Homo sapiens: one gene and its partners. The protein of the gene in region 1 interacts with the protein of each later gene in a pairwise test. Each region holds a gene or a part of one and is shown on either strand. Other genes may lie near its edges.

Region 1 (7,025 bases):
CTCATTACCACTCAAAGCCCAGGGCTTTATTTAATCTTGAATCTCAATAAACCCAAGGCATAGCCCAGGGTTCAACAAGAATCTGATCAGAGGATATAAAAGTGGAGGTTTGGGCTGGTTGCAGTGGTGTGTGTCTGTAGTCCCACTGCTTTGGGAGGCCAAGATGGGAGGATCACTTAGCCATGAGTTCACTGGAGGCCAGGAGTTCGAGACCAGCTTGGGCAATATATAGCAAGACGCCCATCTCTACCAAAAAAAAAAAAAAAAAAAAAGGGAAGTTTGGGCCAGGCGTGGTGGCTCATGCTTGTAATTCTAGCACTTTGGGAAGCCAAGGTGGGAGCATCACTGGAGCCCCAGAAAAGAGACCATCCTGGGTAACACAGTGAAACCCCCAGCTATATGAAAACATTTTTTTTTTCAAATTAAAAAAATTAGCCAGTTGTGGGATGTGTGCCTGTTGTCCCAGCTTCTCAGGAGGCCGAGGTGGTAGGATTGCTAGAACCCGGGAGTTCAAGGGTGCAGTGAGCTATGATGGCACCACTGCACTCCAGTCTGGATGACAGAGCAAGGCACTGTCTTTAAAAAAATAGAACACGGGCTGGGTGCGGTGGCTCACGCCTGTAATCCCAGCACTTTGGGAGGCTGAGGCGGGTGGATCACGAGGTCAGGAGATTGAGACCATCCTAGCTAACACGGTGAAACCCCGTCTCTATTAAAAAAATACAAAAAATTAGCTGGGTGTGGTGGTGGGCACCTGTAGTCCCAGCTACTTGGGAGACTGAGGCAGGAGAATGGCGTGAACCTGGGAGGCGGAGGTTGCAGTGAGCCAAGATCGCGCCACTGAACTCCAGCCTGGGAGACAGAGAGAGACTCTGTCTCATAAAACAAACAAACAAACAAACAAACAAACAAAAACATGGCCGGGCACGGTGGCTCAGCCCTGTAATCCCAGCACTTTGGGAGGCCAAGGCGGGTGGATCACTTGAGGTCAGGAGTTCGAGACCAGCCTGGCCAACATGGTGGAATCCTGTCTCTACTAAAAATATAAAAGTTAGCTGGGCGTGGTAGCATACGCCTGTAATCCCAGCTGAGGGGGCTGAGGCAGAATTGCTTGAACCCAGGGGGCGGAGGTTTCAGTGAGATGAGATCACGCCACTGCACTCCAGTCTGAGCAACAGAGCAAGACTCTGTCTCAAAAAATATAAAATAAAATAAAAAATAAAATAAAATAGGGAGATACCCAGGCAATCTAGGTTCGTTGGTCACCCTACTTAATCCCATCTCCATCCCTAATCCCAATTGCATTCTTACGTCCAACCCCGTCTGTAACCTAATCTCCAATCCTCCACTGCAATCCTAACCCTGTTTCCATCACTTCCTCTTGGCGCATTCCCATCCTCAGCCCAGCCCTCACCCTGAGCTTCTCTTCTCCAGGTTCAAGTGCTCCACCAAGACCTCCAAGGGCAGGTGAGTTGGGGCTGGGGGTGTAGGAGACCCAGAGCTGGCTTTGCCCTGCTCTGGCCCTGACCAACCATTCCTCCCTCCTCAGCAAAGGAAACAGAGAAACCCCCACTTCCTTGCAAGCCCCGGAACATGACAGGTGAGAGCTGACAGTTGGAGTCTTCCTGCTCACCTGGCTGAAGCCCTTCTTGAAATGACTTTCTCATCTCTTCTAGGCCTGGACCTCGCCGCTGTCACCTGTCCACCTCCTCAACTGGGTGAGCAGTGGGAAGACCCTTTAAGATGCCTAAGAGGGGATACCTGGATGTTTCCTTTCAATCCCCCAATTTTTATTTATTTATTTTTTTTGAGACAGAGTCTCACTGTCATCCAGGCTGGAGTGCAGTGGTGCGATACTGGCTCACTGCAACCTCTGCCTCCTGGGTTCAAGTGATTCTCCTGCTTCAGCCTCCTGAGTAGCTGGGACTACAGGCACGAACCACCACACCTGGCTAAGTTTTGTATTTTTAATAGAGATGGGGTTTTGCCATGTTGGCCAGGCTGGTCTCAAACTCCTGACCTCAGGTGATCCACCCGCCTCAGCCTCCGACAGTGCTGGAATTACAGGCGTGAGCCACTGCCCACAGCCAGCCCCCTAAATTCTGACCAGAGAACAAAACAGAGGTTGTTGATCTTGGAAGACAGAGTCTTTGGCATCTTCTGAATAAACCTCTCTCCCCCTTTCTCCCAGCTGTGAATCTTGAGCCTTCTCCATTGCAGCCATCCCTGGCCGGTAAGTGTCCTCCCATTTCCCCTCTGACAGTGGCTAGTGTATCTGATTGAGACCTATGGCTCTACAGTGAGACCCTGAGTCAGAGGAACTTCTCCTTTAAGAAGCTGCTCCTTCAGGACCTGCTGCACTGTTCTGAGTTAGTCTAGTGAGCGCTGCTCTAAGTGAGAAAGCCATTCCTTGACATCAGAGTTTGCAAACGTGTATTCTTTTTTGTCCTTCTGAGGACCAGAGTTATGTGGTTGTTTTGTTTTTGATAATGATGATGTACTTATGGTTCTGTTGGTGATTGTGATGGAAGGATGAGGAAGGAGATGATGGAAAGGAAGAGGATGGTTGGTGGTAGTAACGATGGTAGAGGTAGTGATGGCGTTGTTGTGTGCTGATGGTGATGGTGGAGATACTGATGATGGTGGTGATGGTGGAGATAGTGATGGTGTTGTTGGTATTGATGATGGTAATGATGGTGGAAACAGTGATATGGTGGTAATGCAGGGCGGAGGTAGTGATGGTATTGTTGGTGATGGTGGTGGTGGTGATGATGAAGGTAGTGATGGTGTTAGTGAGATGGTGATGATGATAGTGGTGGTAGTGATGGTGTTGGTGGTGATGGTGTTGGTGATGATAGTAGAGGCAGTGATGGTATTGTTGACAATGACAATGTTGTTGGTAGAGATGATGGTGGTGATGGTGGAGGTAGTGATGGTGTTGGTGATGACCATGTTTAAAAAGAAAAAGAAGCTTCTCCTCTCTGAGTCTAGGCCAGATCTCCAGAAACTCAGGTATCTGCTTGCATAAGATATGGGAAATGTTCTCTGCTCTAGAAGCCGGGGTCCACAAGCTTCCTTGACCTAGGAGCAACTTGGTCAGGGGTTTCTGGAGAGTAGAAGATGATGCATCATAGATATTAAGAACAAAGCTGTGTCCAAGTCATGCCTAACCTCACCAAGCCTCAGTTTACTCACTTGCAAAATGGGAATAATGCTTATAACCTACATCATAAGGATGAGACTCCAATAAGATAGGAAGGATGTAGGTTGGGTACAGTGGCTTACGCCTGTAATCCCAGCACTTTGGGAGGCTGAAGCAGGGAGGATCTCTTGATGCCAGGAGTTCAAGACCATCCTGGACAACATGGCGAGACCCCCATCTCTGCAAAAAAATAAAATAAATTAGCTGGGCCTAGTGGCACACATCTATAGACCCAGCTACTTGAAAGGGTGAGGTGGGAGGATTGCTTGAGCCCAGGCATTAGAGGTTGCAGTGAGCTATAACTGTGCCACTGCCCTCCAGCCTGGATGACAGAGTGAAACCTTGTTTCAAGAAGGAAAGAAGGAAAAAGAGAAGGATGCAACATGATGCTTAGCGCACCGTAAATGCATCAAAAAGACCCTGAGCCTCCCCAGGGTTCACTCTCCCTAACCCTCTCTTGCTGACTTCATCTGCTGAAACAGTCATGACTACAGACTTCTGCCCCCTGCTCTTGGACAAAGACTTAAGAGTCTCTTCCTTACTCTCTGAAGCCCCAGTATCAGTCTCTCTGTTCCCATCCCCACTCCCCAGCAACTCCAGTCCCCTGGCTCAATCAGAGGTCTGGAGGTCCTGGCTGCTGCCAGAAGAGGTGGATGGTGTACCTGTGTCTGCTGGTGGTGACTTCCCTGTTCCTGGGCTGCCTTGGTCTCACTGTGACCCTGATTAAGTGTGAGTAGGGCCAGGAAGGGACATGGGGAGAGATTGGGGAGGGTGCACAGGAGGACCTGGGCTCAATTTGGACTCTTCTTCATAGACCAGGAGTTGATGGAAGAACTGAGAATGTTAAGCTTTCAGCAGATGACGTGGCGAACAAATAGTGAGTGCTTTCAGTCATTCCTTCATGCCACTCCTATTGAGCCCTAACCCAATCCTCAGATCCAACTCCAAGATCCAACCTCATCCCCATCTTTGCTGGGCACTGTGCTAGGTACCAGGGGGTTAAAATGGTAAACATGTCAGACACAGTCTTTGTCTGACTGTGTGAAGTGTGCATGTGTATATGTGTCCAGACCTCCACCATCCAATATGGTGGCCACAAGCCATATGTGGCTGTTGAACACTTGAAATGTGGCCAGTCCAAACTGAGATGAGCACTAAGTATGAAATACACACTGGTCCAGGTGCAGTGGCACATGCCTGTAATCCCAGCACTTTTGGAGGCTGAGGCAGGATTGCTTGAGGCCAGAAGTTCGAGACCCGACTGGGCAACACAGCAAGGCTCCATCTCTAAAAAAAATTAGCCGGGTGTGGTGGTGTGTGGTGTGTGCTTGTCATCCCAACTACTCAAGAGGCCGAAGTGGGAGGATCTCCTGAATCAGGGAGTTTGAGGTTGATCATGAGCCATGATCACACTCAAGAGATCCTCCTGCCTCAGCCTCTTGAGTAGCTGGGACATAGGCGCATGCCATCACACCCGGCTGGTTAAAAAATTTTTTTTTTGTATAGAAGAGGTCTCACTATGTTGACTAAGCTCGTTTCAAACTCCTGGCCTCAGGTATTCCTCCTGCCGCAGCCTCCTGAAGTGTTTCGTGCCTGGCCTAAAACCTGTGTTTCTGTTTTGTCCAACTGAAGGGCCAGCTACTGAGCTAGCGAGTGTTGAAAAAGGGAAGAGTTCGTGGGGGAGTAGTGATAATACACACGTTAATTATAGAAGAATCTTTTGACCTGGGTTGGCCTTCATCATGACTGCCAAAGTCTGAATATTTCTCCATTCCACACTGCCTCACCCTATGCTTCATAACAAGCAAGCTCAAAACCCATCAATGGCTTCTCATTGTCCAGAGTCCAAGGTGAAACCTTTAGCTTGGCATTCAAGGATCCACATATTAGGCTGGGCACAGTGGCTCATGTCTGTAATCCTAGCACTTTGGGTGGCCAAGGTGGGAGGATCCCTTGAGGCCAGGAGTTCAAGACCAGCCTGGGCACAGCAAGACTTTCTTTCGTTTGTTTGTTCTTTCTTTCTCTCTCTCTCTCTCTCTCTCACTATCTCTTTCTTTCTTTCTTTCTTTTTCTTTTTCCTTCCTTTCTTCCTTCCTTCCTTCCCTTCCCTTCTCCTTCCTTCCTTCCTTCCTTTCTTCTCTCCCTCTTTCTCCTTCCTTCCTTCTTTCCTTCCTTCTTACTTTCTTTCTCTCTTGCTTTCTTTCTTTTGACAGAATTTTGCTCTTGTTGCCCAGGCCGGAGTACAGTGGCGCGATCTCAGCTCACTGCAACCTCCCCCTCCCAGGTTCAAGTGATTGTCCTGCCTCAGCCTCCTGAATAGCTCAGATTACAGGCATCTGCCACCACTCCCGGCTAATTTTTTGTATTTTTAGTAGAGATGGGGTTTCACCCTGTTGGCCAGGCTGGTCTCGAACTCCTGACCTCAGGTGACCCATCTGCGTCAGCCTCCCAAAGTTCTGGGATTATGGGCATGAGCCACTGCGCCCGGCCTAGCAAGACCTTGTTTCTACAACAAATTTTAAAAAAATAGCCAGTCATGATGTCATGTACCTGTAGTCCCAGCTACTCAGGAGGCTGAGGTGGGAGGATCACTTGAGCCCAGGAGGTTGAAGCTGCAGTGAACCACGATTGCACTCCAGCCTGTGGGACAGAGCAGGACTGTGTCTAAAAAAAATAAAATAAAGGATCCAGGCATCTGAGCTCATTCTGCTTTGATCTCAAGCTTTTCTGAGTTTTCCCTCCACTCTTATAGGCTTTGCCGCCTCACCACAACATACTTGCCTCTGTATCTTTGCTTTTTTTTTTTTTTTTTTTTTTTTTTGAGATGAAGTCTCACTCTCTTGCCCAGGCTGGAGCACAGTGGTGTGATCTTGGCTCACTGCAACCTCTGCCTTCCGGGTTCAAGTGATTCTCCTGCCTCAGCCTCCTGAGTAGCTGGGATTACAGGCATGTACCACCACGCCCAACTAATTTTTGTATTTTTAGTAGAGACAGGGTTTTACCATGTTGGCCAGGCTGGTCTTGAACTCTTGACCTCAGATGATCCGCCCACCTCGGCCTCCCAAAGTGCTGGGATTACAGGTGTGAGCCACCATGGGCAGCCTGCATCTTTGCTTTTAAGATAGTCCCTGCCTAATGTGCCTCTTCCTCACCTCACAGTTATCGAATCACTTTCTTCCTTTAAAACCCACTTCTTTCAGGGTGCCCACCACCCCTACTTTTCCCCACATCCCCGGGATTGATCCCTCCTCTGAGCCATTCTCGGATTCTGAGCACTGTACATGTGGTTTTTGAGCGCAAGCGTGACCCACTGGAATGTGGACACAGTGGGGAACACAACCCTTGCTTCTCTCTCTGATGTGTCTGCAGTCCGTGGTGGATGGGTAGGATGGGTTCTCAGTCTGTAGCCCTCAAGCCCATCCCTTCTGACAGTGACTGGCATGGCAGGGCTAGCTGGCCTGAAGCATGACATTGCCCGTGTAAGAGCTGACACCAACCAGTCCCTGGTGGAACTTTGGGGCTTATTAGGTAAGTGAGACTTGGGGAATTGCCCAGGGATGGGGGGCATGGCAGAGCTGGCACATTACATCACTCCATTGAAGTCATTCTCAGTGCAGTCTATGTGAATGGTGCCCCTCCCCCTCACCGGAGTTGAGCAGTGTACAGCCTGCACAACTGTACATGGCATACTATGTACATGGCTCAGGTTCTGGGGCCATCCTGACAGCATTCTGTCTGGTTCCCAGACTGCCGCCGAATTACCTGTCCTGAAGGCTGGCTGCCCTTTGAGGGCAAGTGTTACTACTTCTCCCCAAGCACCAAG
Region 2 (7,039 bases), on another chromosome or scaffold:
TTGTATGATATTTTAAAGGCATTAAGTATTTCAAACCCATTAAGAAAATTGTTATTATTGTACAAGTCACTTTAAAAGAATAAATTTACCCACCAGGCTGTTAGAGCCAAAGTATTTCCTTTGAACAGTGAATAATCCATAGTGATGTCCTTATACTTTTATACTGTAATTAGAATTAATAACTTAAATGTTGCAAATGTTGCTTCTAAATAGAACTACTGCTGTGTATTTTGTGAAGCTGCTCCTTCTTAGGGTTGGAGATCAGCTTTTTGGCAGCATGATTCATCACCTAGCTATATGCTTTGTTCTTACTTATACAGGAAAGGATTAACAAAATTTTATAGGGCAATCTATAATCCTCACAAGTATTAAATTCTGTCAGTGTTTTTTTTCTTGCACATATATTTCCACTTCGTTGCAGCATTCTCGTCTTCATTTTGAGTGCTTCTCTATTCTAGATGTATCAGCTACTAATTGAGCATTTAGCATTAAAACAGATGTGATATATACAGAAATGCATTCAAGAAAAGATCAAACAAGGAGGCTGCCAATCTGCAGTTGGACTTTAACCTGCTTGCTTTTAATAGCTCTTAAATATAGATCCCAATGTATAGGCTTGGTGTGAATATCATTAAACCTTTCCCACTGTTCCCTTAAGCTTTGAATGTTCACTGATCTGTGAAGATAGCTGAATGGATAAATAAACTTAGACCTGGCAAATCAGAGAGATTTTAGAAATAGAGCTAATCTTGACTTTTTTTTTTTTAAAGCAAAGCTTTATGTTGCCTGATATATTTTTTTTAAAACAAGAAGACAGAAATAAAAATAACACACATAAACTGACTAGCACTTTTTTAAAATGAATTAAAAAGTGGCGGGGTTATTAACATGTATTCTAGCCTGCTTGTCTTTCCACCTTCATTTCCCATTTGCTGGTAGTTGCATGAATTTTATTTGGCCTGAACCCCAGAGTGCAATAGAGAGGCGATGAAGAGAGAAGGCACTAAGGGAGAGGGGCCTAAGGGCTGAGATATATGTTCCCGCCACTCATTTTAATCCATGTGTTCTTTTTCTGAACCTTCCTTTCAGTGAGTGTTCAGCTGTGTTCAATGTTGCCAAAAAGCAAGGAAGATGAACACTAAAAGGACTCTTTGGCTTGAGGCAACCAGAAGCCACTAGTGACCTTGTGAAATCAGGTCCTGTAGAAAGGTGAGGAGACAGTTCAGATGTCTGCTGGGTGAGCCATGAAGGGGGAGGTTGGGAAGGTTAGGAATTGGAATTTAGTGGAAGTGGGCCAGTCTGTCAAGAAGCTCAGCAACCATCGCTAGAAGTGGAGCTCCTCAGGGCCCTGTTTACCAAGGAATCTCCTAGAGTTGTTCAGTGCACAACCTGAACAAACAGAAGCCAGGACCCAGTATTCGTGTTGTTTATTTTTTGCAACACCTAACACAGAACATATCTGACATTGAGAGCTAATGAATGATCCCTGGATAAGTGAAAGAAAGGACATACACAAAGGAGAGAAGAAAAGATTTTTACAAAGAGTCTATTGATAAGAACCATGTTTATATTTTGAAAGTTATATAGAGTTTTTGTTCAATTTATTTTGAGAATTAGGCAGAGTTAGACAGAAACACAGTAATAATAATAATACAGCCTTGTACTGGCATGAAGACTGATGGCTTATAGTCTTTTTTTCAGATTCATTATCTATTTCTTCATGGAAAAGTGCATCATAGGACATTTAGGAAAGAATTGCAAATTAAAGAACATTAAAGGTGAGGCTTGAAATAAAAATGTAGAAGTTTTTAAAGTAGATTTCTAACTAATAATAACTCATGATGTTGTGTAACTAAAGAGAAAGACTAAGTTACACCCAGGAGTGGCCCTGGATCAGAATGGGTAAGTAGAAGCACAGCATATATAGCCATTTATACATCATAAAATCATCCTGTTTCATCACAATTCCGTGTGTATCTGAGCTGTGTACAGCTCGGTATAGTATTCTAGGCTTCCTATTTAATGTTGCACCAGAGAGCAGAAATTTTAAGAATTCAGAGAAGAGATATAAAGATTATTAAAAGCGAAAGAAATAGGATCTAATATAAAATGTTCAAATGGAACTTTGGTAAACCCTTATTCATTGTTTTAGAATTCATGATGATTCACATAATATAGCTGCATAAGGGGAAGGGCTGATTTTAATAATTTCCATTATAATTATCTTTAAGAAGAAAGGTTTAAATTTAGCTCCAAGCATAACACCAGATCTTCATCAAATACTCTTTGGTTTATCTAGTTCGGCTTCTCTGAAAGGAAAGGGCATTCTAACAAAATTTTGGAGTGGTTAGTGCCTGACTTTTTGCAGCAAGGACAGAATGAAAAGAAATGCGCCAACACATTTAGACTAAGTAAGCAGCAGAGGAGTTTGTTTAAACAGAGGTTGTCAGAGGAAGTTATGGCATCTACTTCTCTGGAGACTTTTTAAAATAGGCCAGGCACTCATCTCTCTGGGATGGTTTCAGCCTGCAGAGTAGCTAGAGGACAGCCCCAGGCCTTTTCAGGTTCCCTTCTCCCTCTACGAGTCTGTAGGCTAAACCATATCCGAGAAGGCCTCTTTGGCAGGGTAAGCTACAGTCACCCAGGCTCATGTCTAACTATGATATTTTCTCACCGCATGGAATGATAATTATAGGAAGGAGGGTGAGGTCGGAAAGATTCCTCAACCACACTCTGTTGGCATTGCCAAAACAGGCACTCCCTCTGCCAGAATTGACTAAATGCAAGAGGGATGCCAGTTAGTACAGGATGATCGTGCTCAGTTGGATTTCATGTGTCCCATTGTCTTACGGTGTGTGGTATGTGTGTGTCTGAAAATAGGGTAAGTAAAATGAATTGGAAAGAAAATTCAGTTAAAAATTAGGAAAACAAATGGGGAAAGAACCTGCATATTGTCTTGAGGTTAGACTCTAACATCAAGCATTCGATCCTAACATTTAGCATTTGATTTGAAAGGTTCCTTTGGGGTCCGAGGCCTATCCTATCCAGGATTGTGGTCCGTTGTGAGCAGATGGGGTTTCCCTCTTAGAAGATGAGCTTGGTTCCAGTTTCCTAGAGCCTTTGGGTAATGGCCGGTTGCTCACAAGAGCTGAGGAGACAGCATAGCTGACAGGCACAGTCAGAGGCAGCTTTAAATATCACGCACCCCATCATTTGGTGGGTGGGTGTGTTGTCGCTAACTGTGCCGCCACTTCAACAAAGAAAGTGGTGAGTTGCCAAAAAACAAGGATGCTCCGTCTTAAGCATTAGGCTGAATTCTTCTTAGAGAAGTGTTTTTTTAATGAAGAATTTTATCCTAAAATATTTTCCAAATTTACTTATCCAACGAAAGTAATTTAAGCATTGTAGCAAGTAACTAGAATCTGCAGAATGAGAACAACTTTCTCTCACAAAAATCAATCTTCTTTATTCATCGAGTGGTCTCAGGTGCCCTGTGTGGGGTGGGGGCTTTCCCAATGCCACAATTATGCAGGCTGCTCAGAGAGACACTGGACCTGGCAACCAACTGCCCAGCTAATTTACAAGCAGGTGACAGGTGGTGAAACTATGATTTTGATATTTTTAAATGGTTCTTTCCTTCCCATAAATGCTGCTTTTTGGAAAGGTCACTTTAGTTTTCTTTAGGAAAATGAGCCTTTTCTCCCTCTCCCAAATGCTAAGTTGATGCCCTTCCCCAGAAGTCTTCCTGTTAATTGAGTTGGCCTGAAGGTCATCAACAATAATCAATATGAAGACTTGCTGCGACGTGCTAATTGACACTCCCAAAGAGGAATAGTGTCAACAATCAATAAAGAGGACAGAGCACTGGTAGATTTATGGCTTTGATTTTGAAAAGGTATAGGAATGCCTGTGATGTTTCCCCACCCCCCAACCCCGTACTCCTTTTGAATGTTAATGCTTTCTTGAAGATGATTTCAGACACACTGCTAGGATACTGCCTCTACTCGCTGAAGCAGAATCCTCTGAAGAGTTGCTGAGGCAGAACTGAAATCATGGCTCACCTCAAAGAAGCAGCAGTATTGGCCGTTAATGATGCCTCACACAGAAAGACGATGCTCCTTTAACTCGGGGTTTTAATGGGAAGTTTCTAAGCCTGAAACAACAGCTTTAGACCTGGGGTGTGCCATCAGCTGCCTTGCAGCTACCACTGTCTACTGCTTTCACACAGCGTGGTCGGGAAGAATGGAAACTAAAGAGGCTTGTAACTACCTGTAACTGTTCCACCAGGAAATGGATCAAGTGTTTGTTCAGCCAGAGCCAGGTACTTGACCCAACCTGTATCTTTGACGGGCTAATTAAATGCTTTTCTCTAACTTTACAATTGATGCATGAGCAATCATCGCATACATGCCTTTCGGATCATAGTTGTGAATTTAGATCTAGCTGTTAGATAAGTCTAATTAAACAATTGCTAGATAAAGTTAAGAAGCGAGGGGGTAAAATGTAATGATGCCTTTATTTTTAAAGCATGGTTAAGTTTATAATGTTATTGATACTGGATGAAGAAGTAGTAAAACAGGCTTTTTTTTCTTTCCTAAGCTGCAGTAATTTATTTCTGAAAGCTGTTTGCCCATTATCGTATTTTTTTTTTCAGTCACCTAAAACGTCCAACCTTCCAAAATGTAACAAGGATGTTCTGATTTGTTTACAAAGGATCACAACTCAACCACTCATATTGACAGCGTTGACTGTCCCTGGCTGATAAGCTGTGTGCAGCACTATCCTTTTGAGATATCAGCAAGTAGCCGTTTTCACTATGAAACACACAAAGAAAGACAAAGAAAACCAGGTGGAACAGTAGGGCTTATTATTTGAAGTTAAAAGTTCCAGTTCGTTAAGGGTGCCTTCTGATACCACCGATTCCTGACTAGGCACCCTCATGGTGTTTTCTGATGTTCTCAGCTAGGCAGTAGCCTTGCCCTGCAGTCCCTTAAAAATTCCTCAAGCAGATATTAAGAGGAAGATGAAGATGGGGAAGAAGTAAAGCTGAGATTGGGGCTGAGGCTGAAGACAAAGGTCTCCTGCTGACCCAGAGCTTAAAAGCAGCAGTGAGTTGAGAATAACAGGGTCCACTCCCAGCCCAAGCAGACGTGTCTGCAGGCTGACTTTGCAGAAACAAGCAGAGAACAGACTTCCCAGTGCAGCAGTGGGGGCTGGCAACAGTTCTGAAACTGCCTGTTGACATCTGTAGCTGAAGACATCCTCATGTTTATGAAATCATTGTTCGTAGGCTTTCTAGTAGACTTGAGTCTATGTTTTGAGAGTATAAAATATATTTACCCTTAGCCCCCCTTTGAATTTTGAAGCATCAGGGCTATTGTATTGGAACAGGAGGGCTGTACTTGGAAAAAAATATAGAGATGTTGCCGTGTATATGAGCCAAAAACAAGGGGAGTGGGAGGATTTAAAATCTATGAAACACCTAGAAAGAGCCAGGAAATCTTTACCTGAAGTTCTTTGCTGGTAAGCAAGAGGGCCATGAATTCTTTGAATTTATATGAAATATTTTGTATCTTTGTGTGTATATCCTGAATGCAAGTTACTGTTCACTAGAATAATACACAGAATTTCTAAAAGATTTGTAGGGGAATAATATTTGCTTATGTGGTGATTCTGTTGCTTAGATAACGAGGTGGCTTATACAGATGACTCACAGTTGTGGTGGGGATGGATAATAGGATCATTTGGGAGATTTACACATCTAGGGTGGGTGAGTGGGTTGGAGAATGAAATGTACTTTGAGAGACTACAGTTATACAAACAGGAATGCAGCCCAGGCTTCCTTTAGTGCTAAAAGTAGAGAGGGATTCTATTTAGGCTCAGTATCAGGATGTGTATTACTTGAATCATTCAAAGCCATGTTAACATTTCCACAGTTAACTTCAGAACTGTTGCAGAATAATGCAGCATTTTGAGTAAGTTTGTCTCTGTTGGTCACCGCAAATTCAGTCCTGCCTAGCTAGGCAATTCCGTTCCTGTTAAAGTCTAAAGATTGGTCTCGCTAGTCTGCCAGATAAATATAAATAAGGTTGATAGTATATCTTTGCAGGATAAAGTGTCCTGTCTATCACATGTGAATGGAAACTGGACAAGCCCAAGAGTGTCCTTGCTCAATGGATGGGCTGTTTTGACACCTACTTTTGAAACCACGTCAAGTCACGTAACTAGGTTTCTGATCCAGAAGTTTTAAAAATTAGGTACTGCAATTATGTGGTTTAGGAATATTTAAAATACAGACAGCATTGCTTCACTGCACCCTACAGGCCGTTAACACCTGAGGGATGACACCTTCAATTCATTCCAACGTGCCAGTGAAAAACTAGGGATCTACCATCATTTGGCGTTGGGGTGGTAGGGGGTGGTGCTACCTTTTTGGTAACGATTTTTATAATTCTGGGCAGTTTATTTATAATTTTCATACCTTAGTGTGCTTGATCACATAATAGAAATTAAAAATAAATAACATTTTGCACAAAAATGGTGTAAAAAGAAAACACTCATTCATCCCCACCTACTTATCAAATCCCCACTATGTGCCAGGCAGGACTACACAGGTACTGCAACTATTAATTAGATCATTGCACCCTATTGCAAAAGGGTGGGCTCTTGAGTTGATGACCTGTAGAATCAAGTCCCTGTGTGTGGCTCCACAGAACAAGGTGTCCAATGCACTTAAGTAATTCTGTCGCTGTCACTTAAAAAAAAAAAAGAAAAGAAACATGTCATTGCTTTAAGATACATTTTCTTCAGAGAAAGTATTTTTTCCTTACTGTGAAATTGTATAATGAGATGCTAATGAAATAAAATGTCCAAGGGATCCAAGCCTGAGAAGGGTACATGTTGACATTAATAGTTTTTGTGTAAGACATTTGGATTCAGGATATTTTAAATGGCTGCCCTTCCCCACCAAAAAGTAGATTAGGTAAGAAAGAATTGACCTCTTAAATAAAAGGGTAACTTTCAATTTCTGGCTGATTTT
Region 3 (7,220 bases), on another chromosome or scaffold:
CACCTGCCCGAACACCTGGCTATTTTTTTTTTTTTAATATTTAGTAGAGACGGGGTTTCATCATGTTGGCCAGGCTGGTCTCAAACTCCTGACCTCAAGCCAGCTGACCGCCTTGGCCTCCCAAAGTGGTGGGATTACAGGCATGAGCCACTGCACCTGGCCTGTCTTTTCCCAGACAGATCCTCTCCTCTTTTCCCTAGCACTTCCCTTGCTCTGCCTGCCCCCCACCCCCACCCCCAGGCCTCCAGGCCTCCACATGGGGCACCAGCCCCAGCTTCTGCCCTGACCTGCACCCCTAGTTGAGTGGCCCACTGTGTACTGTGGATGCTGCCAAACCCACAGCCCCGGTGTGTCTCTGAGAACTCTGACTGCTGGGCTCTTACTGGCCCCTGCCTGCCTCATGGGAAAAGTAACTCTGGGCTGTGGGGCAGGGAGGGGACCAGGAGCACCTGCAGCTTGGACATAGATTCCACAGGTTTGAGCCAAGGTAGAGCCCACTAAAGGGAAACACATGTGGCAGATGCAGCCTCAGCCTTTATTATAGGGACTTAGTTCACTGAAGGATGGGGGAATTGTTATGGGGGTGTTTAAAGTGGTAAAATGGGAGGAAAGTCAACTCTGACAGGAGTGGGGTGAGAGGAATAATGGAGTGTTGGAAGGTGAGGCACTGGGGGCAAGGAGAGGGACAGAGGGAGGAGAGGGCTCTAGGGGAGAGGAGGGCAGGAGGAGGAGGCGAGGGCACCAAGGGAGCCACAGGCCTGGGGCCTGGGAGCAGGTGGGCTGGGGAGCTGGATGGTGCCCTGGGCTTCCTGGAGAAGCTGCTGCTCCGGGCAGACCTCCTTACTTGCGGGAGCCCAGTGCCAGGGCAATGATGAAGCCCAGCACCAGCAGGAACATGGCGACAGAGAGCAGCACCGTGATGACCACCATGCCCCCTGTGCGGGCCATACCCAGCCCAATGGATTCCATGTTCCTTCCTGTCAAAAGAGAGGGGAGACCACTGTGGGCGGGAGAGACCCCCAGCCTGCCTGAGGCTCACGGCCTCACACTCATCCAGCCAACAGACTGCCCAACCAACCAGCCAGCCAGCCAGCCAGCCAGCCAGCCAACCAACCAACCAACCAACCAGCTGATGGATCCAAACACCCATCACATAGACATTTATGAAGCATCTCCTATGTCAGCCGCTGAGGAAAAGTTAAGAGGACACAGTCCCTGCCCACGAGGAACCTTTAGCTGAGTGTGCAGTAGCCATGCCGAAGGTTCCGTGCTAGGATAGAGGTAAGCAGGGGCCCCGAGGGCGCACGGGGAGGCACAGGCAACCCAGACTGGGGATGAGGCAGGAATGGTCAGGGAAGCGTTTGTGGCCGCTGAGATGGGAAAGGGAGGCGGGAGTGTTACTTACGAGGGAGTGTGGACATTGGGATCTCTCTGCTGGACTCAGTGGCTGTCCCCTTCTTCACTAGGTAGGAAATGCTTTTGTGGTTTGGGAGAGAGTAGAGAACCCTCAGTGAGTATTGGGACTTACAGGAAGAGGGGCTCCAGCCTGGGCCACCTACCCTCACAGCTGTGTCTCCCCTATGTGCACTCCTCCAAGAGGCCCAGCTTTCACCCCCTTTTGCTGTGCCCTCACCCTCTCCTCATGCCCACCAGATCTCCCCCACACTAGCTTCTCTCTCTTCCTGCACCCCCTTCCCTAGGTGCCTCAGGCTGGACCCAGTACCTACTAGAATTTGGTTCCTGGCACGAGGTTTGTCACCTGGTATGCACTGAGCCGAGTGACTGTGAAGCCAGCACCACTGTCCACCACACTCACCAGTTCCCTGCGCCCACGGCACGGAGGCACCACAAAGCTGGACGTCACCACTGGGCAGAAGTGGCGGGAGGGGAAGACTGGGTCAAGTTTCTGGAGGCCCCAAGGAGAAGGGGCAGCTTTTAGAGTGTGGGTACCCCAGGAGACGGGTGGACAGGAAGGCATGAATGGGGAAAAGGGTGCAGAGGGTGTCGCAGGAAGGGGTCTTTGGGGACTAGAGGGATGCCTTGGGAGAAGGTAGCAGACCTTTGCTGTCATTGGCTCTCCGGACCATCAGTGTGGCATTGCCTCCTGTGAGGTGACAGGGGGGCAAGGCAACCAGCAGGCTCTCCGTTAGCGCCGGGGACAGCAGACCAGAGAGGCTTGAGATGTTGAAGTCTGATGGGAGGCAGGAGGGAGCTCCGATGGGGACTGACCCCTCCTGGCCAACAGATCTGGCCCGGTCCCATTGGAGCCATCTCCCTTTCCACTCTGTGAACCCTGGGCAGAACAGCCAGGCCTGTGCCAGTATGACCACCAGGTGGCAGGCTTGGGCTGCAGAAGCTGCACCCTCCACCAAGCGGTCCCCAGAGCCAGAACCTGGATGCCAGGAGTCGGGCAGCGCCCAACCTCACCCCTCCCCGCAGCATCGGATCCTTGCCCACACCTCTCTGCCTCCTAGGTCTGGAGGAGGATCAGGAGTGTACCCTGAGCCCAGTGTCTGATACCCAGTCACTGCCATCACCAGCCCTGACTCCCAACTGTCCAGACCTCTCTTTGAGAGCCCTGGAAGGTACAGTGCTCCCTGTCCAGGCCCCCAGCCCCCTTCCCACCCCTGCCAGAGATGGAAGAGACCTGCAGCCCCTGGGGACAGCAGAGCCAGCAGAATCAGGATCAAGGGCAAGGTCCGGATGGGCAGCAGGGGTGCCATGCTGGGCTGGGAGGTGGAATAGGTGCTGGCAGGCTGGGGTTCCTGAGGCAAGTGAGGCCCTGCCCCTGGGGTGGCTGATTTTGTCCTGGGGGTGGGAGGGGCTGGAGGGGAATCCAGTCCAACCTGCCCCTTGGGCCCTATAGCCTCAAAGGGGTGGGGAGAGCAGACAGGTTTTTCAGGATGGGGAGCTGGCCCTCAGGCCAGGAGGGGGGATGCCCTGGCTGGGTCTTGATGGTGTAACTAAGGTGGGGAAAGAAATCACCCCTTCTTCTGGGACTCCCGTGCATAAGGCAGTGTTCCTGTGTGCACGGGCATCTGGAGACTGGCCAGTCCTTGGAGGACTGCTCCCCCGATGTGGTGGGGGTCTTTCCCCCACCCCTCAGAAGGGTGATGAGTTTGGAAGTTGCCCTGATATGTAGGAAGAGAATACTCCAAGGGGCTACTGAAAGGGCCTTGAGTGGGTAAGAATGGGAGAGAAACATTCTGGTGGGGAGGGGCAGCAGACTGAGGGTTTCAATTCTTGGAGTGCACTGAGGCTTAGGTACTGCTGCTCTGGGAGAGGCAGGGGCTGTGGGGGCCAGGGAGCACATGCGGTTTCAGATTCCTCTGGAGGGTGGGGACGAAGGTGGCCATGGAAGACTTCTGGAGAGACCAGAGAGACAGACATTGACCCTGGCCAGCAGGGGTTGGGGGTGGGCACAGTCAGCCTTGGGCAGCAACCATTTGTTGAACTGAGAATGGAGAAAAGAGACCTCGTAAGATAACATGAAAAAGAGACAGAACTTCCCTGACTGCCTCCTCCAGCCCTGGGCTACATCAGAAAGAAGCAGAGGAGTTCTGAGCAGAGGGAGGGGAGAGGAGTCAGGACGTCTTCCGGGCCCTGGGTAGGGGTTCTGTGTGCTCCATTGTAGCCCTACAGCCACCCTGGGTGGTAGCTGGTACTGGCTTCCTTTTGTAGTAGAACTGAGGCCAGGCACAGTGGCTCATGCCTGTAATCCCAGCACTTTGGGAGGCCAAGGTGGGAGGATCACTCGAGGCCAGGAGTTCAAGACCAGCCTAGGCAACACAGAGAGTTTGATCTCTATTAAAATAGAAAAGAGATCAGCCGGGCGTGGTGGCTCATGCCTGTAATCCCAGCACTTTGGGAGGCCGAGGTGGGCGGATCACCTGAGGTCAGGAGTTCGAGATCAGCCTGGCCAATATGGCGAAACACCATCTCTACCAAAAATACAAAAACTAACGCGGTGGTGTGTGCCTGTAATCCCAGCTACTCGGGAGGCTGAGACAGGAGAAACACTGGAACCCAGGAGGTGGAGGTTGCAGTGAGCCGAGATTGTGCCCCTGCACTCCAGCCTGGGCAACTAAGTGAAACTCTGTCTCAGAAAATTGAGAGAGAGAGAGAGAGAGAAAAGTGGAAACTGAGACTCAGACACATAGAGTTACTTGTGGAAAGTGGAATACTTTGTCGGGAGAGGCTGTAGAACTTCCAGAAGCCTGAGAGCTGTACAGAGACTGTTGCTGTATATCTGTTTGCTCCACGAACTATTCTATCTTCCTCAGTCCCAGGGAAGCTTAGGGTCCTGGTAGGAATGTGAGGGAGGTTGTGTCCTTACCGCCAAGGTGGGAAGGGTAGGCTCAAAGTTTGGGGTGAGTGGAGAATGACAGTAAAGGAAGAACTCATGGGCCTAAGCAGAGAGTAGGAGGGTCTTACGCCAGTGCATCTCCAAATTTAATATGCGTATGAATTACCAGGGATCTTGTTAAGATGCAGCTTCTCATGCAGTCATGCAGTGGGTCTGGGGTGAAGCCTGAAATTCTGCATTTTTTTTTTTTTTTGAGACAGAGTCTCGCTGTGTCACCCAGGCTGGAGTGCAGTGGCGTGATCTCGGCTCACTGCAACCTCTGCCTCCCAGGTTCAAACGATTCTCCTGCCTCAGCCTCCTGAGTAACTGGGATTATAGGCATGTGCCACCATTCCCAGCTAATTTTTGCATTTTTAGTAGAGATGAGGTTTCACCATGTTGGCCAGGCTGGTCTCAAACTCCTGACCACAAGTGATCCACCCGCCTTGGCCTCCCAGAGTGTTGGGATTACAGGTGTGAGCCACCGTGCCCAATCAATTCTGCATTTCTAGTGACTTCCCCGTAACACTGATGATGCCGGTCTGAAAGGCCCACACTTGAAGTTGCCAGCTGCTCTGTATTGGTAAACAGCATCCCCACCCCCAGCTGGATCCTCTTCCACGGACATCAGGGATCAGGGCAGGTGTTCCTTCCCAATCTGCCCGAACAGGCTGCTTTTGGGTGAAGAATTTGGTTCTGTTTTTCCTGCACCTTGGCTTTTGATTCCACCACCACTGCACAAATGGAAAGAGGGTCTCTTGCACATTAAGGACAACTTGGGAGAGAGGGGACAGATTAAATGGTGGAATGCCAGGGTGAGGGGATCTTCCTGGTACTCCTCAAAACCTGTCACCCACCAGTAAGTTGTTTACACTTGAACTGGGAGGTCTTTCTCCTCATTCACAACCAAGAAGCAGAAAGAAGAGGTTGGGTTTATTGCAGGGTGGGTTGAGTTGGGTCCACTCTTAAGCCCCCATCCCCATCTAAAATTATGAGTGGTACAGAGTGGAGTAGGGGAGGGCAGATCTCTGATCAGATTTTAAAGGGATAAGAGGGCCCTGTGCCTTTAAGCTCTCCCTTCTCCCTCCAATCCCCCCCCCCCACCTTCCCCACCCCAGCCCTCCCCAGGTTTCTGGAGGAGCGGGGAGTTGCGTCTTCTCCCTGCCCTGCCGAGCTGCTCACTGGCTGCTCTGGAGGCTGTGCTTTGCGGTCTCCATGGAAACCATTAGTTGCTAAGCAACTGGAGCATCATCTGTGCTGAGCTCTCGCATCTAATTATCCCATCACAGCAGCCGAGAAGGGTTTGGGGAGCTGAGAGGAGGGGGAGGCCAAGCCCAGGAGCAAGAGGATAACTCTTTTAGCAGAGCAGATTCATTGACAATGCTGAAGTCAGTTAAAGCCACAGCACCATGTTCCTCTGGAGGATTTCCCAATGGCTTGGAGTAAGGGAACCAGGGCCACATGCCTGAAGTCTCTGTCTTGGACCCACTCTTTCTAGGCTGTCTCCTCCTTGGATTCTTGATTCTAAACTCTCTTGAGTTCCCTCCCCTGCCTCCTCTCTTCCAAATCTCCTATTCAAGCACTCCTATTGCGTACCAACTATGTCCTTGGAACTGCACTAGCCACCAGGGATATAAAGGTAAGATAAGTCTCTGCCCTCAGGGAGCTCTTAACAGCTCTAGTCTGCTCAGCCTAGAAGACTATCTCCTAAAACAAACTTCTTTCTGGACTGTGGCACCTTTTTTTTTTTTTTTTTTTTTTCACTTGAACTATGGCAGTTCTTCAACCAGGAGAGCTGGGATCAGAACCCAGGTCCGTCTGACATGCCCAGGGTTCTCCTTCCAGAGTGCCACTCTCTGCCTCCCAGTCAATTAGAAAAACATGTCTACTTGGCTGCATGGCCATGTCAGCCTCTGATGGCAGCTACTGTCCTCTTGTTGATGAGATACCATGTAACTTTAGGTGGACTTCAATGTTCTCACATTTAAAATGGAAGACTTGGCCAGGTGCGGTGGCTCACGCCTGTAATCCCAGCAGTTTGGGAGGCCGAGGCGGGTGGATTACCTGAGGTCAGGAGTTTGAGACCAGCCTGGCCAACATGGTGAAACCCTGTCTCTACTAAAAATACAAAAATCAGCCGGGTGTGGTGATGCATGCCTGTAATCCCAGCTACTTGGGAGGCTGAGGCAGGAGAATCGCTTGAATCCAGGAGGTGGAACTTGCAGTGAGCTGAAATCATGCCACTGCACTCCAGCCTAGGCAACAGAGTGAGACTCCATCTCAATAAAATGAAATAAAAAATGGCAGACTCACCAGGCACAGTGACACATGCCTGTCATCTCAGCACTTTGGGAGGCTGAAGTAGGAGGATCACTTGGGACCTGGAGTTTGAGACCAGCCTTGTGACGCAGCAAGGCTCCATCTCTACAAAACTGAAAAAAAAATTATGGCCAGGCGCTGTGGCTCACAGCCTGTAATCCCAGCACTTTGGGAAGCCAAGGTGGGAAGATTGCTTGAGCCCAGGAGTTCAAGACCAGCCTGGGTGATATAGTGACATCTCTTCTCTATTAAAAAAAAAAAAAAAAAAGCCTGGGCACGGTGGCTCACGCCTGTAATCCCAGCACTTTGGGAGGCTGAGGCGGGCAGATTATAAAGTCAGGAGTTCGAGACCAGTCTGGCCAACATAGCGAAACCCCGTCTCTACTAAAAATACAAAAAATTAGCAGGTATGGTGGTGTGCGCCTGTAATCCCAGCTACTTGGGAGGCTGAGGCAGGGGAATTGTGTGAACCCGGGAGGCGGAGGTTGCAGTGAGCCGAGGTCCCACCATTGCACTTCAGCCTGGGTGACAGTGCGAGACCCCGTCTCAAAAACAA
Region 4 (7,025 bases), on another chromosome or scaffold:
TCCCAAAGCTACAGATTCATATATGTGAAAAGTTCATATGAATGATTTACTTAAATTAGTAAAGTTCACACTCTGAAGTCTTTCTGGCCCATCCCCAAGCTCTTTTGTGTCTTCTCTAACTCCATGGATGATTGCCATTTTCCTGAACACCACTGAGCATCCTTTAAGTGTCAGCTGAAGAACCTTGAGTTTTTTCCTCAAATGGATCTTTACAGACCCTTCATTTTGTCTGCACCAGGGCAGGCACACCACACATTTTTATAGGTAACAAACTCCAGAATATGCCTTGCTTTTTTTTGTGAAAATCTAGGAGAACCACATTTTATTTAGCAGAGATGACAGTTGAATCACTCATTTTTGTAGAACAACAGCTGCGATGTGCCACCAAAATGTTCCAGAGAAGCTGAGGGTGTTTCATTTGTTCCAAGAGCTGGCAAGGCCAAATGCCAACAAGCATATTTATTTCTCAAACTTCCATTTCTGTAATGGATTGGCACTTTATTTATTTTTATCATAGTCAAGGTTTTATGCCTGAGTTTTGTAGACACTGGAACCTGGCAGCCCTATATCTGCAGTGCACTTCTCAGGGGGACTTGTTAGGTTTTATATATAGTGAGCCCTCCATAGCCTTGGTTCCGCATCTGCAGATATAACCAAACTCAGATTGAAAAATTTCACGGAAAAAAACTAATAAAAATAACCATGTAACAACAGGAACTATACAAATAAAAAACAATACAACAATGATTTATATAGCATTTACATTGTTTTAGGTATTATAAGTAATCTAGACTTGATTTAAAGTATTTGGGAGGATGTGTGTAGATTGTAGGCAAATACTGTACCATTTTCTGTCAGAGTCTTAAGCATCCTTGAATTTTGTTATTCTTGGGAGGTTCTGAAACCAATCCACCATGGATACTAAGAGGTGGCCGTATATATGTTTTAACCTCCCTATCCACCAAAATATCACCAGCTTTGTCATCCTCCGAGTTATGGTACATCCAATGGCAGTGAGCATCAGTTGCCCGAGGAGATACACTAGCAGTGCCAAGGACTGTTTTTTCGACTTTCATTAAAATCCTTTTTGCCTGAAGCCCTAGCCCTTCAGGTCTGTGGTCTATGAGTCTACTTTAATTTGCACAATGGGGTTAAGTGGAAGGGCTGAAATGACAGAAGTTAGGATTGCTTTTGGTATAAGAAGGATTAAAGGCCAACATCTGGCTCTAAATTCATCCAGGCACTGTGGATCAGCTACTTGATATTAGTGTAGTTTTGGGAAAAGTATCACTTCAGTTCAAATTTTTAAAAAGCATATAAAGCCAGCAACTTATTTAATGAGCAGGTCCTTAAAAAAGCCATGGCATTTTCTTTAGAGATCAGACACAGAAAGAACCACCAACTGTGTTTATTAAAATATCCACTTGGATATTCCAATTATACACTAAACTGCCAAGGGAATTTTTGGAAGTATTTTAACTTAATGATCAGACATTCAAATATATGCAACAAATCTGTAATTTAAAGGTCTGATTGCAATAATCAGTTCTTGGAATAAATGTGGGTGCACTTAATGAAATGTGTACTCTACAGGGCACACACACTCACATATTGTGTAGTAGGTTGGATCTCTATGCCACTTTGTAAAAGGCAGAGGGGATCAAAACTAATTGTATATGGCGATCAAAGAAGGAATTCGGCATAGCGCATTTCTCCCTTCTCCAGAAAATACTTAGATGTAGAGCCATGTTTCTAAATGGAAGGAGGGTGGTGTTGGCCGTGGCAACGATTTTGTCCCCAGGGAACATTTAGCAATGCCCAGAGACATTTTTGGTTATCATAACTGGAGAGTGGTTGGATGCAACTGGCATGAAGAAGCCAGGGATGCTGCTTAATATTGTGTAATTCACAGCACAACCCCCACAAGAAATGACAATCCAGTCCCAAATGCTAACAGTGCTGAGGTTGAGAAACAATTAGAGTAAGTGTGTTGAAGGGAGGAGAGATGGCAAGAGACTATGATACAAACCAGTTTAGTTTGGGGAGTTAATGTCTTCAAACATTAAAATGGAGATTAAGAAAAAAGGGCTCAATATCACTTGATCATTAGAGAAATGCAAATCAAAGCCATAGTAAGATACCATCTCATACCAGTCCAGAATGGCTATCATTAAAAAGTAAAAAAATAACAGATGCTGGTGAGATGGCAGAGGAAAGGGAACATTTATACACTGTTGGTGGGAGTGTAAATTAGTTCAGCCATTGTGGAAAGCAGTGTGGTGACTCGAAGAACTAAAAAGAACTATTATTCAACCTAGCAATCCCTTTACTGGGTATATGCCCAAAGGAATATAAATTGTTCTACCATAAAGATACATGGGCGTGTGTGTACATTGCAGTACTATTCACAATAGCAAAGACATGAAATCAACCTAAATGCTCATCAATGGTACACTGGATAAAGAAAATATGGGCCATATACACCATGGAATACTTTGCAACCATAAGAAAGAATGAGATCATGTTCTTTGTAGGAACATGGATAGAGAGCTGGAAGCCATTCTCCGAAGCAAATTAACACAAGAACAGAAAACCAAATACCACATGTTCTCACATATAAATGAGAGCTAAATGATGAGAACACATGGACACAAAGAGGAGAACAACAGAAGCGTACTTGAGGGTGGAGGGTGAAAGGAGGGAGAGGAACAACAACAAAAAAATCTATTGGGTGCTAGGTTTAGTACCTGCGAGACAAAATAACCTTTACAACAAACCCCCATGACATGAGTTTACCTATATAACAAACCTGGGTATATACCCCTGAGCCTAAAACCTTTTTAAAAAATGGAGATTAAAATATACCTGCAAATGATGATGCTGAAGCAAAATTATGTTTAGCCTAGCAAAGTATAAAATCTACCTCCCTTCAATTGGAGTAATAAGTTCTTTGTATATGGATAGATTTTAAAAATCTAGTTAAATGTATTTTTGATCTATTTATTTACAAAACACAATGATTGGCAAGAATCAAATAGTTCTCAACTCAAGGGCTCGGTAGTGGAAGAAGATGGTGTGATACTACTCAGGGAATTGGCTTGAACCTTTTGATTTTCTTTCAGGTGAGGGAATATGTCCAATTAATTAGTGTGTATGAAAAGAAACTGTTAAACCTAACTGTCCGAATTGACATCATGGAGAAGGATACCATTTCTTACACTGAACTGGACTTCGAGCTGATCAAGGTAGAAGTGAAGGAGATGGAAAAACTGGTCATACAGCTGAAGGAGAGTTTTGGTGGAAGCTCAGAAATTGTTGACCAGCTGGAGGTGGAGGTAAGGAGTGAACTCACTTCTTGGTAAATTAATAATAAACTCCCTTCAGTGACTGTAAGCAAGTACTAGTACCAGGAAGTGAAACTATCTCTTCCAACTTCTAATTCTCTACTGTCTCATGGCCACATGGCATATCACTATGTTCTGTTTTGGATAAGGGCATGTGTTTGAATAGTAAGTTAAGCACATTGGGAATGTGCTGACTTAGGAGCAGATGTTGTCTAATGGTCAGAATCCTGCCCCAGAATAAAATGCCCTTTCAACTTCTCTGAAAAGGAGCTGGCATAAAGTTGAACAACGGTTCATGGCCAAGCTATATGAGGTGTCTTCTCTGCTCTAGATTTATCCTCATGGAACTAGAAATCCACAATATACCTGATTGTGGTAAAATTGCTAGGTTTGTTTCTCCTTTTGAATAACCTGGAATCCTTCTCTGCAAACTGGAAACCCCCTTTAAGAAATTTCTTGTATATTTCTGTAAAGCCTTTTAAGATCTGTGGATAAAGACCATCACATTAACGTTATGGTTGGGTAATTTATATCAACAAAAATTTACTAGCACAGTCATGACATGGGCTATAATTGAGAATTCTAGTTACGTATTTTAGAATTTAAGCTTTCTCTGGCCCTCACCATTCATTAGAATCTTAATTATAATACAACATGAGTAAACACAAGTTTATAGGGGAAGGTTATTAGAAATGAACTTTAATGGACATTTGTGGATGCTGAGGATGAGCTTGGGCTCTATTATTAAAGCTATTAAAATCTTTGCCATTTTCTTCTTGTCACACACATCTGCCTGAGATCTGACAGGCATTCATGCTAAACCATAAAATGTATTCTTCCAAATGAAACCATTCAGAAGAATCTCTGGTGTATTCTCTGGCAATGTTTCACTAAATGACAAATTCAGCCCTGGAATGTTTATGAAAGAAATTGCACCATAATATAAAGTCACTCTGAATTTTTATTTCCTTAGATAAGAAATATGACTCTCTTGGTAGAGAAGCTTGAGACACTAGACAAAAACAATGTCCTTGCCATTCGCCGAGAAATCGTGGCTCTGAAGACCAAGCTGAAAGAGTGTGAGGCCTCTAAAGATCAAAACACCCCTGTCGTCCACCCTCCTCCCACTCCAGGTAAGCATGCCAGTTTTTTTAACCACTTGTGCCAGACCCCATAAGGAGCTGTGAGTGGGGTGGGGAAGGGATTGGGGATTGCAATGGTGAAAGAAGAAGGTGGGTTGTTTTTTTTTTTTTTTTTTCAGTTCTCAGTTTTCTCTTCCATGTTTTAAAATTCCCTTCCTCCCAAGTATTCTACATGCTATCATATTCTGGGTTTCAAAGAGGAAGAGCACAAACAATGAGTTGATTTAAAGCAAAATCCACGAGTTACACGTATTCTCTTTGCATTTTCTAACAGGGAACAAAAATCTCTATGGTGATGGAGGCCCTATCAGGGGCCTCAGGGGAAAGCCTCTGGAATCTGTGTGTGGCATCCACTTTCCTGTGGAGTTAAGGACTGATTGGCTCACTTATCTGATGAGCTGGGTTTATGCCTTTGATGCTGCCATCTTCTCTCTCTCCTTCTGTTTCTCTTTAATTTTTTCTTTTTTCTTCCTATAAATGCATGCTGAGCACCTGCTATATTGTGTGTCCTGAGATTCAGTGAGGATTAAAGGAATGACCCCACATATCATGTGCTTGTGGGTGTGTCTTGCCATTCCTCATGGATTGTGAGTTCTTGGAGTAGGGGTGGCATGTTCGTCTTTAATGAATTCTCATTGGGGTTAAGTACAGCACAGAGGTGGGTGTTCTGCAAATATACCCATGAACAGAGGCAGTGGAGTGTAGGGTACAAGAACATAGCTTTAGAATTCCAAAGACCTGAGCTTCTCAGCTAGGTGGCTGCAGCAAAAAGGATCCTTAATATCCTCATTTGTAAAATGGGAGAATAATAGTGCCTGCCTTGCAGGGTGGCTGTGGGGATTAATGAGTCAGTGCTTGGGAAGCTCGGAACCTTATGATCGGCACTCACACGCTGGCAATGGATATTGTTAATAATGTTGATAATTGAAGCGAAAGCCTTGCAGCAAAACAAAAGCAGTGCCAGATTACTGTGCCCTGCAATGCATTCCTTCAGGTAAACTAAAGCCTCTCAGCCACAGTGTTCAGCCCCATCCTTTAGAGATATCAATGACACAGGGACCTTCTCTCTGCAGGTCCTGAGCATCTTAGCCTGAGTGGGGACTGTATCTTTTCATCAAATCATGCAATCCTTTTATTTTTATGAATTCCAATCCTCACACCTGCTTTCTTTTAGACTGTGTTTCTGGATTATTGTCATTGTAACTGATTTTTTAAGGCTTCAATTATTAAATAGGTATAGCCATAGATATAAGCCTCTTGGTCTTCTTCAGGTGGATTTTTTTCCTCCCTCTGCAAATAGGAGTGTGTCCTACTATGACAGGTGTCATCTAATGGTTAGAATCCTGCCCCAGAATGAAATGGCCTTTCAACTTCTCCAGAAAGGAGGTGACATAAATTTGAACAACTGTTCAAATTTCGCATCCTGCATAGGAGGTTTAGGGCAGACAACATGGTCTGTCCTCTGTAATAAACTAAGGCTAAATTTAGTCTGGGATTAGTGGTGCAAAAATGTAGCAAATGAGAGCTGTTTCTGGTGGACCACAGAGGACTCACTGAGGCAGAGGCTGAAGCAATGACAACTCCTGATAATCCCTGAACGAGCTCCCCAACACCCCTTGCAAATCCTCCTCATGGAATAGATTTTTCTGGCACAATTTTCTATGCATCCCTTAGAATGAGGACATTTTAGATGAAGGAATATTCAGGGCCATCTAACTTAGCCTCGTCTTGTCTCAGAGGAGAAGACGTGGATGGTAAGAACGCTGCTTTTCCTGAGGCCACACAAGTAGTTAATGACAGAGCAGAAGCTGCAAGGCAAGGGTCTTTGCTCCCTGGTCAGTTCAGGACCGAAGGTGTCAGGCAGCAGTAATCCAAGGACAACGGTGGGGAGAAAATGCATTGCTTAGTATCCAGGGAAGAAAACAAGTGAGCCTGTTGGGTTGTTTTTGTTGGATTTTTTTTTTCCCAGAACTTTCCCCTAGGCCCTCACACTTAGACTTCTGTGATCCATCCTAGCCCAGCTGTGTTGTTTAAGCAAATTGGACCCAGATTTTTACTCACTTTCCCACAACCTTGGCTGTACCTGAATCCCTGCCAAGCCACTTGGCTCTCTTCCAGCTTTGTTCATATTATATTTATGATGTTTATATTAAACTGACTTTTGGTCATGTTTTTAAATCAATTTCTTTCACTTGCTCTCTTTCTGTTTGGATTGGTTGATAATGCAGAATTGGAAAATCCCCAAGCACCACAAACTTGTGAGCCTGTGGAGACTTTAATTAAAGTTATTCTCTATTATGGGACTTTAAAATCTGGCCTGTCTGCTTTTTTCACTGCAGAGTTGCACAGAATAAAAAAGACTATATGCAAGTCTCAGCTCTAAAGTAACTCTGCGCTCTCTGGGCCCCCTCCCTTATAGCTACAGTTTGCTGACCCAGTGGTCAGCTTGAACTTAGAACAAGTGAATGTATCCCAGGTTCAATAAAATATGCTTCCTATTTGGTTTTTGCTACAAACAACGTCCTTTTTCTGCCTCATT

What was found.
Region 2: the proteins of CLEC17A (region 1) and CTXN3 interact in binary tests that used the Homo sapiens proteins (3 or more experiments, as listed by UniProt).
Region 3: the proteins of CLEC17A (region 1) and UPK2 interact in binary tests that used the Homo sapiens proteins (3 or more experiments, as listed by UniProt).
Region 4: the proteins of CLEC17A (region 1) and OLFM4 interact in binary tests that used the Homo sapiens proteins (3 or more experiments, as listed by UniProt).

What each region holds. Positions count from the first base shown.
Region 1 is NC_000019.10:14,593,083-14,600,107, forward strand, and holds part of CLEC17A (C-type lectin domain family 17, member A), read left to right. Parts: intron 1-1,434; coding exon 1,435-1,467; intron 1,468-1,549; coding exon 1,550-1,600; intron 1,601-1,676; coding exon 1,677-1,718; intron 1,719-2,191; coding exon 2,192-2,233; intron 2,234-3,793; coding exon 3,794-3,931; intron 3,932-4,016; coding exon 4,017-4,079; intron 4,080-6,571; coding exon of another isoform or gene 6,572-6,609; exon of another isoform or gene 6,610-6,634; coding exon 6,635-6,730; intron 6,731-6,948; coding exon 6,949-7,025. UniProt on the Homo sapiens protein: Cell surface receptor which may be involved in carbohydrate-mediated communication between cells in the germinal center. Binds glycans with terminal alpha-linked mannose or fucose residues.
Region 2 is NC_000005.10:127,645,068-127,652,106, forward strand, and holds the start of CTXN3 (cortexin-3), read left to right. Parts: upstream 1-4,014; 5' UTR 4,015-4,321; intron 4,322-6,675; exon of another isoform or gene 6,676-6,754; intron 6,755-7,039.
Region 3 is NC_000011.10:118,951,854-118,959,073, reverse strand, and holds UPK2 (uroplakin-2 precursor), read right to left. Parts: upstream 2,777-7,220; 5' UTR 2,724-2,776; coding exon 2,648-2,723; intron 2,192-2,647; coding exon 2,060-2,191; intron 1,867-2,059; coding exon 1,728-1,866; intron 1,477-1,727; coding exon 1,406-1,476; intron 978-1,405; coding exon 841-977; 3' UTR 515-840; downstream 1-514. UniProt on the Homo sapiens protein: Component of the asymmetric unit membrane (AUM); a highly specialized biomembrane elaborated by terminally differentiated urothelial cells. May play an important role in regulating the assembly of the AUM.
Region 4 is NC_000013.11:53,038,788-53,045,812, forward strand, and holds part of OLFM4 (olfactomedin-4 precursor), read left to right. Parts: intron 1-3,122; coding exon 3,123-3,335; intron 3,336-4,317; coding exon 4,318-4,477; intron 4,478-7,025. UniProt on the Homo sapiens protein: May promote proliferation of pancreatic cancer cells by favoring the transition from the S to G2/M phase. In myeloid leukemic cell lines, inhibits cell growth and induces cell differentiation and apoptosis.